Homo sapiens: one gene and its partner. The protein of the gene in region 1 purifies or fractionates together with the protein of each later gene. This does not show direct contact. Each region holds a gene or a part of one and is shown in the gene's direction. Other genes may lie near its edges.

Evidence for each region. Proteins that work in one complex are often made in the same cells at the same time.
Region 2: the proteins of SIK3 (region 1) and YWHAE purify together in Homo sapiens (affinity purification with mass spectrometry; 4 studies listed by BioGRID and IntAct, with this or other methods). This does not show direct contact.

What each region holds. Positions count from the first base shown.
Region 1 is NC_000011.10:116,870,607-116,875,881, reverse strand, and holds part of SIK3 (serine/threonine-protein kinase SIK3), read left to right. Parts: coding exon 1-16; intron 17-430; coding exon 431-508; intron 509-614; coding exon 615-724; intron 725-1,825; coding exon 1,826-1,979; intron 1,980-2,245; coding exon 2,246-2,401; intron 2,402-5,275. UniProt on the Homo sapiens protein: Positive regulator of mTOR signaling that functions by triggering the degradation of DEPTOR, an mTOR inhibitor. Involved in the dynamic regulation of mTOR signaling in chondrocyte differentiation during skeletogenesis.
Region 2 is NC_000017.11:1,358,723-1,362,222, reverse strand, and holds part of YWHAE (14-3-3 protein epsilon), read left to right. Parts: intron 1-214; coding exon 215-321; intron 322-924; coding exon 925-1,131; intron 1,132-3,500. UniProt on the Homo sapiens protein: Adapter protein implicated in the regulation of a large spectrum of both general and specialized signaling pathways. Binds to a large number of partners, usually by recognition of a phosphoserine or phosphothreonine motif.

The sequences.
Region 1 (5,275 bases):
ACCAGTCAATATCCAGGTGGGCAATAACTCCAGTGACCTAGTTCAGGACAAGTAACACCAGGGGGGTAAAGGTTAGCTGTTGCTCACTAACCCTAAGTCGAGAGTTTCTTGCTCTTCCTTACCTCTGTCTCCTCCCATTTGTCATCTCTTCCTTTGTCAGAGGCCAATCAAAGATCTGAACCTTTTTTGATGGAGAGGAGGGATGAGCAACAATAGTTGTGCCTTTTGTTTTTTTGAAGAAATAGCAAATCATGAGGCGATGCTATCCTCTTCACAGGATGCTTCCTTGTTGTGACTTCTAAGGGCCGATGAACCAAAAACTTTAGTAATCAGGGAAACATAGACTTTAGCAATCAAGACTACTTGGAAAGACTCATTATTTCTCTCTAGTGTTAAAGGTATGCGTGTATATGTATGTACTGCTTTCCAGGCGGAGCAGGCAGGTACTGCTATGAACATCAGCGTTCCCCAGGTGCAGCTGATCAACCCAGAGAACCAAATTGTGGAGGCAAGTAGCAACCTGTGGGAGCTGTCAGCTGAAACCACTTTCTTTGCCATATCCTTGCTTCCCTTCCTTCTGATTTCTAACTCGATGGTGTTTCCCTCCACCTCAGCCGGATGGGACACTGAATTTGGACAGTGATGAGGGTGAAGAGCCTTCCCCTGAAGCATTGGTGCGCTATTTGTCAATGAGGAGGCACACAGTGGGTGTGGCTGACCCACGGTGAGTATCCGGCCAACAGCCCTCACTAACACTGGGGCAAAGAATTGTCACCTGACTTTCAGTGTCTACCATGGCACATTTCCTACTACATTGTATCCCCAGAGGAGATCTAATCCAGTGGCCAAGTGGACAAATGATATGATGTAACTTATGTATGTAGACAATTAAAATTTAAATGAATAAGGATCCAAAATCCAATAACAACAGTTTCCCAAAGTGTTTTCCCAAAATAGTCTTTCATGATGTTCCCTGCTGCCTGCACACTGGAAAAAATGGACTGAAGGCCAGCTCGCCCCATTTTTGTTCCACGGTTGAAGACTCTCAACATTAAAATAGCCTTACCTCTTTTCTGGATTTTTTCTTTGCTGAGTAGGAAGAGAAGGTTGTGGGAAGAATTCTCCTGAGAGGTCAAATCAGGGCAAAGCTGGTTTTCTTATAAATATCTCTTTTCTTCCAGTGAATTTCCAAAAAAGACTCCCATGCCTGCTGATGTGCTTGCTTTATGTCTCTTGTTCTCAGCCTATGATCAAATAGGCAATAGGGGAACATTCTGGCTCCACAGACTGAGATAGCTTTAAAGGGGTGGAGCCCTGAGTCGCTCTGTTAGTGGAAAGATGTCTTACTTTAAAGTATGCTGTAAAACCTATCATTGTAGCAAGATAGCCCTGTACATCTAGTACTTATCTGTCCTATCAGCACTGACAAGAGTAATTGCATTCTTTCCCTGGTGAATCAGTTGCTACTTCAGGCAGCCATTATCTTAGTGGATGGCCCATGTTCTCCAGAAACTTGGTGTTCACCTCCAGGATTTGAAAACCTGAACTGGACTGGTGCCACTATTTCCTCTTGGCTCAGAGCTGTTGGTTTTACATGAATGGCCAATAAAGAATAGCAATCCTTCGTCCCAAATAGTAAAGGAGCAGAGAGTTAAATTCCACACTTTAGGCTTTTGCTTTGCTTTAGGATCTTAAAGAGAAACATAAATTCAGGAAGAAAATAAAATAAGTTGTACTGAACATAGCAATGCCATCAGTTTTGGGATATAAGCACTTTTGAGTAAGAATGTTAACTAAACTTCTCTGTCATTCTGTTTTGTATCAGCACGGAAGTTATGGAAGATCTGCAGAAGCTCCTACCTGGCTTTCCTGGAGTCAACCCCCAGGCTCCATTCCTGCAGGTGGCCCCTAATGTGAACTTCATGCACAACCTGTTGCCTATGCAAAACTTGCAACCAACCGGGCAACTTGAGTACAAGGTACCTAGACATGGAAGAGGGCTGGCTCCAGAAGAAACAAACTTGAGCTTCCTTTGAGAGGCTATGAGGCACCTTCCCTAGGACTTAAGGGTTTACTTATAGAGAAAGATGATTTATCTTGCAAAGTAGCTCGGGTGAGCGGGAAGCGTCCTCTAGTCTCTGTCATGACCCATGGCTCCCTTAATTTCCATAGATGAGTGGCTTGCCCCTTTCTCCCCGCCTTCCCCTCATCTCATGGTCCGTCCTCCCCACTCTGTTCCTGGCAGGAGCAGTCTCTCCTACAGCCGCCCACGCTACAGCTGTTGAATGGAATGGGCCCCCTTGGCCGGAGGGCATCAGATGGAGGAGCCAACATCCAACTGCATGCCCAGCAGCTGCTGAAGCGCCCACGGGGACCCTCTCCGCTTGTCACCATGACACCAGTGAGTAGCAGCACAGAGCCCAATTCACTGTCTCAGAGGCTTTTGATAAAAAGGTTGTGAGCCTGGGGTTGGGAACCCAGGGCCAACCTACATGTCTGAATTTCCTTTTTCTCCAAACTTAGGATGCTCCAGCCCATTTTCTTCAGGCCAGTAGAGTTTTCCACACTTTATTTTTGGCGAACTTACTTACTTAGCCAAGTTATTTCTACATTGAACTCCACTCCTGGAGAGCTTTTTCCTCAATGGGCGCTCACAGGTACCCTGGTTAAGTCCAGCTGCACTCCTGCCAGCTTGGGGCAGGTAGCAGCCTAACTCAGAGCCTTCTCCCAGGCAACCTTTCCCTGCCAGAAGGCCAAAGTGCCCTTAAATTAATTGGTTTCTAGACTGGCTTCCAAAATTGCCTTTTCACTAATGCTTTCTCCATTGATAAACACACCTCACATGTTTGGCATAACCTGGATCACTTGATGATTTGCTCCCACAGCTTTAGCCGAGTCAGTTATCTTAGTCACATGTCCTTCATATGATAGTCACATTCAGAGATTTTTTTTCTCCCTTGGGTTCTGTTTATTTTCCTGTCATAGGTCATTCATTCATTCATTTATTCATTCAATCTCATAGTACCATAAGATTGGGTAGTAAATATATCCATCACCCTTGGAGATGTTGTAAGGGCAGTGCTGCTTTGAGGACCCTTTTCCCTCCTTTAATCCATCATGGGTTAATCCCTTGTAAAATATAGTAAAAGTGAAACATTAGAACAGTGAAAATTTAAACACATATAAAATACAAGGCATTTTTTATTGAGTTCAACAGACAAAATTACTCTGTTAAATTGCTAAAAGTGTCTCTTTATTTATTTTTTTAAATTGCTAAAAGTTTCTGAAAGCCTTTTGTTGATTTCTGTACTTACCTTATCATGAATTGGTAACAAAACAGTTTGTGGGCATGGGTCCATGGGCCACACTTTCAGTAATGAAAGAATTATATATCATAGCCCTTGCCATCACTGACAAGATCAACATATGTGAAGTATTTGACTAATAGTACAAGATCATATGTGATTAAGTACCACAGTAATAACATGGAAAATTAGGTGGCAGAGGCATTCAGAGATGGGCAAGACAGGTTTGGAAGGATCATGGTCAGCTTTATGGGACGTGGGGTGACTTACTGTGTCTACTGTAACTGTTTTTGCCAAGGTCGCTAACAAGTTCTTGTTGATAAATTCAGTGGACATTTTTAACCTTTTATCTTTTTGGACGTCCCAACTGTATTAATCACTGTTGACTTCTTTTTTCCTTGAAATATTTTCTGTTCTTGGTGTCTGTGGCACCACATTCCCTGTGTTTTCCCCCACCTCTCCTTTTCACATTTCCTTTCTGCTTGTTCCTTGAGGTTGGCAAAACCCAGAGTTTTATCCTAGGCCCTATTCCCATGTCCTTTGATGTACTCTCTCTGGATGAGTTTGTCCACTCCTGTAATTTCAGTTACTCTCTGATTCTCCAGCCCAGAATGCTCCTCTGAGTTCTACACATACGTGTACATGACTGCCTATGGGATAGATTTAGTTGGTTATTCCACAAGTATTCACAACTTTAATTCAGCATGTCCCAAATGAACTTACCATGACTCTGTAAAACCTGCTCCTCCTCTTGGGTGACAGTGAATGGCACTGTCATTCTCCGGGTTACACAAGCTAGGGATGTGAATTTTATCTTTAACTCTTGTCTTTCTTATTTGCCATATCAAGTCAGTTGTCCAGTGCCTGTGAATGAAACATCCTCTCCACTTTCCTTTCCTTAACTCAGGTCACTGTCATCCATTGTGTAGATGAACACCACGGCATCCTAACTGACTTCTTTGCTTCCAGTCATGTCCCCTGATCCCTGCCACCAGCCCTTTTCACACTGCAGCTAGAGTAAGCTGGCTTTTGCAAATATAAATCTTTATAACATCATGCCCCTGCTTAAAATCCTTTAGTGATTCACCACTGTTCTTCCTCAAACTTCTTAGTGTGTTATTCAAGACCATTTGTCACTGGCCACAGCGTTCCTCTCCTGCCTCATCTACAGCCACTTCCTGCCTCACCCTGTTCACTCCACCCTTGTAGAACTGTGGGAAGGGATCCAGGAACCCTGGGAGCTTTCCGACAAAATTATTCCAGGAGTGTTTTGTTTTGTTTTGTTTTGTAATTAGCCATTTTGTAAAATACTCTTTTATAATAATTGAAGTGTGATTTTTGTTCTAGTGACTGGGGCATGGTGATGATGTGGGCACCCAGGCTATGGGTAGCTAGCAAGGATGCAGATGGGAAAGTCACAGTGATACAAGCATTGTGGTGGTTCTCATTTCACTCACATGTTTTGGCGAGTAACAACTATTTTAAAGCAGTGAATTGATACTACACAATTGTATCTTATGTACCAAAATGTAATTTCAGTAATTCACTATGCTTTCCTGGAGTTAAGACATTTAAACTCCGGAAATCACATTAATATGAAACAACAGGTCAAGTCCTAGACATTTCAGGTAAACAATCTTCTACTGTATTTTCGGGTCCTCAAACACCTACAGGCCTTCTCTTTTCTTCTGCCTGGAAACCTGTAACTCCTGTCCCTCTTTGCCTGACCAGCTCCTGTGCATCCTTCAGGTTCCTGCTAGGTGCTACCTCCTCCAGGATGCCTTCCTTAATTCCCAAACACCCCCATTAGAAGACTTGATCATGCTATTTTGTAATTGTTTACTTGTCTCTATCCTCTACTAGACTGTAAAATGAGGGCAAGGTCTATGTCTGTAAATTCACATTTTATCCTGTAACAGTAAGCATTTGGCTATTTGTTAGATTAATAAATGAATGAATGAAGATAAATA
Region 2 (3,500 bases), on another chromosome or scaffold:
ACAATAGGCAGCATGCAGAAGGGAAAAGATACTTTTTATAACCTAGAGGCAGCTTTTCTCTGCTTTTGTGTCAAGAAGGAAGAAGGGAGTTTGGAGAGGGATACAAATTCTTTTTAATACTAAGCTCTCTACCTCAAAACCAGAGATAGAATATGTAATAATTTGTAGAATTTCTAGACTTAATCTGATTTAAAAAAAATTTTTTTTTTTTTAGGTTGAGACTGAGCTAAAGTTAATCTGTTGTGACATTCTGGATGTACTGGACAAACACCTCATTCCAGCAGCTAACACTGGCGAGTCCAAGGTTTTCTATTATAAAATGTAGGTTCTATACTAGAAGGGAAAATGTAAGATTGAAAGTTGGTCCTTTTAGAACCATAACTTTGTTCTATGTAGGTTTTCAACTTTTATTTAAGAATAATTGTTCAATGTTAGAAGGATAGTTAATATTGTAATGAAAAGGTGGTTGGGCTATTATGAAAATGTATTAGCTTTTGCTTATTTATATTCTTTTGTTTTTGTGAGACCTATCCCATTCCCCTCCCCCAAACGGCATACATTTCACAGTGCTTAGTGTTATATATAGACATTTTATTTTATGATTAATAAACTGTCATGCCATTCCTTGGAACCACTTGCTTGTTTAATTCTGGTCTATCAGGTGATAATTTTATTAATTTTTAGAGGCTCCTCAGTTAATTTCCTGGGATTTTTGCTTATATTTAGTAATATGAAATGTCTAAGGAAAAAAATGAAACGAAGCCAGTTATTCCTGAGAGTGTTTAAAATTATTGAAGTACACCTAATTGTTACATATATTTTTGTCACATTTTATATAATATAGAACAATTTTAGCTTATTTTCCTTTAAAAATCGTTCCTAGTTTAAATTTTTTTTTTTTTTTTAATTTTGGTTTTGTTTTAGGAAAGGGGACTACCACAGGTATCTGGCAGAATTTGCCACAGGAAACGACAGGAAGGAGGCTGCGGAGAACAGCCTAGTGGCTTATAAAGCTGCTAGTGATATTGCAATGACAGAACTTCCACCAACGCATCCTATTCGCTTAGGTCTTGCTCTCAATTTTTCCGTATTCTACTACGAAATTCTTAATTCCCCTGACCGTGCCTGCAGGTAAGTTGTGGGGAAGAACAGCAGCGCTCAGCGTGAAAGTTAAGGGGGGCGCTGTTTGGGTTTTCCGTGTTGTTTCTTGGGCCTGTCTTTGTAGACTTGGCTGCATAGTAATTCTTTTGGCTCTTACTGAAACTACTTTGGATAGTATTAAAACAGACCTGTCTCAACCCACTAGCATAGCAGTCAGCATAATTATTTTGATGTGGGATATTTTTGTTGCTGGTAGATTGAAATCTAACATGTTAAAATGAGTAGAGGAAGGAAATGAGAGGAATTAGAATTATTTTAATTTTTGTTATATTAGTTTTCAGTCTTTTTTTAAATTTGAGACCATGTCTCACTCTGTCTCCCAGGCTAGAGTGCAGTGGCGCCATCTCAGATCACTGCAGCCTTCACCTCCTGGGTTCAAGTGATTCTCCTGTCTCAGCCTCCTGAGTAACTGGAGTTACAGGGGCCTGCCACCATGCCCAACTAATTTTTTTTGTATTTTTAGTAGAGACGGTGTTTTCACCATTTTGGCTAGGCTGGTCTGGAACTCCTGACCTCAAGTGATCCGCCCGCCTTCGCCTCCCAAAGTGCTGAGATTACAAGCATGAGTCACCACACCCAGCCAGTGTTCTGTTTCTATGGGCATGTTTTTAATAGTTACTCTCGTAGCAAACATAATTTTATATTTTCTGTTTTAGCATAAACAAGTTTCAGTCTTACTAATGTGTGTTAAACTGTTCCCCCATTTATACTTCAGCTTGTTCCCAGTTTTTGATAATGTAGATAAATATGTAAGGAATATTTATACGTACATAACTTTTTACTTTTAAAAAGTTGTGATAGCCTGGGTGCAGTGGCTCACGCCTGTAATCCCAGCACTTTGGGAGGCTGAGGTGGGTGGGTCACCTGAGATCAGGAGTTCGATACCAACCTGACCAACATGGTGAAACTCTGTCTCTATTAAAAATACAAAATTAGCCGGGTGTGGTGGTGCATGCCTGCAATCCCAGTTACTCGGGAGGCTGAGACAGGAGAATTGTTTGAACCCAGGAGGCAGAGGTTGCGGTGAGCCTCGATTGCACCAGTACACTGTAGCCTGGGTGACACAGTGAGACTTTTTTTCAAATCTCTCTCTCTCTCTCTCCCCCTCTCTCCCCCCCTCCCCCTCCTCCCCCCCTCCCCCTCCCCGTCTCCCTCTCTCTCCCCGTCTCCCTCTCCCTCTCGCCTGGGCGACAAAGCGAGACTTTTACACACACACACACACACACACACACACACACACACACACACAACAATTTAGTGGCACCGAATACATTGACAGTGTTGTGTAATCACCACTATTTGAAAACTTTCTCTTCACCCCACACAAAGCGAATTATAGCCATTAAACAATCAATAACTTCATTTCCCCTCTCCCTAGCTGCTAGTAACTTTTATTTTACGTTGTCACTATGAATTTGGCCCATTCTAGATACCTCATGTAAGTGGGATCATATAATATTTGTCCTTTTGTGGCTGTCTTTATTTCATCTAGCGTAATGTTTTTATCCATGTAAAAGCATGGATCAGAGCTTCAGTCCTTTTAGTGACTGAATTTACACAATTCATTTTATGTATTTTGCACACATTGTTTAGTCATTAAACTTTTGGTGGTCAGTGGGTTTCCACCTTTTCCCTATGGTGAGTACAATGCTGCTATGAAAATGGGTGCACTAAGTATTTGCTTGAGTCCTTGTATTTAACTTCACCTTGAGGTGGAATTGGGACTGAAAATTCTGTGGGTAACTTTTTTTTCCGGACAGGATCTTGTTCTGTCTCTGCAGTTGTGCACTCATAGCTCACTGCAGCCTTGGCTTCCTGGGCTCAGCCGATTCGCCTACCTGAGCCTTCCAAGTAGCTGTCACTAGAGGTGGATGCCACCATACCTGGCCTTTTCTTTTCCTTTTTTTTTTCTTTTTTCTTTTTTTTGAGGGAGAGCCTGGCACTGTCACCCAGGCTGGAGTGCAGTGGCGTGATCTTGGCCCACTGCAACCTCTGCCTTCCAGGTTCAAGCGATTCTCCTGCCTCAGCATCCAAAGTAGCTGGGATTATAGGCGCCTGCCACCATGCCTGGCTAATTTTTTGTATTTTTAGTAGGGATGGGGTTTCACAGTGTTGGCCAGGCTAGTCTCGAACTCCTGACCTCGTGTGATCTGCCCGCCTCGGCCTCCCAAAGTTCTGGGATTACAGGTGTGAGCCACTGTGCTTGGCCAGCCCTTTTTTTTTTTTTTTTTTAAGATGGAGTCTCGCTCTGCTGGCCAGGCTGGAGTACAGTGGTGCGATCGCAGCTCACTGCAACCTCCACCTCCCAGATTCAAGCGATTCTGGTGCTTCAGCCTCTC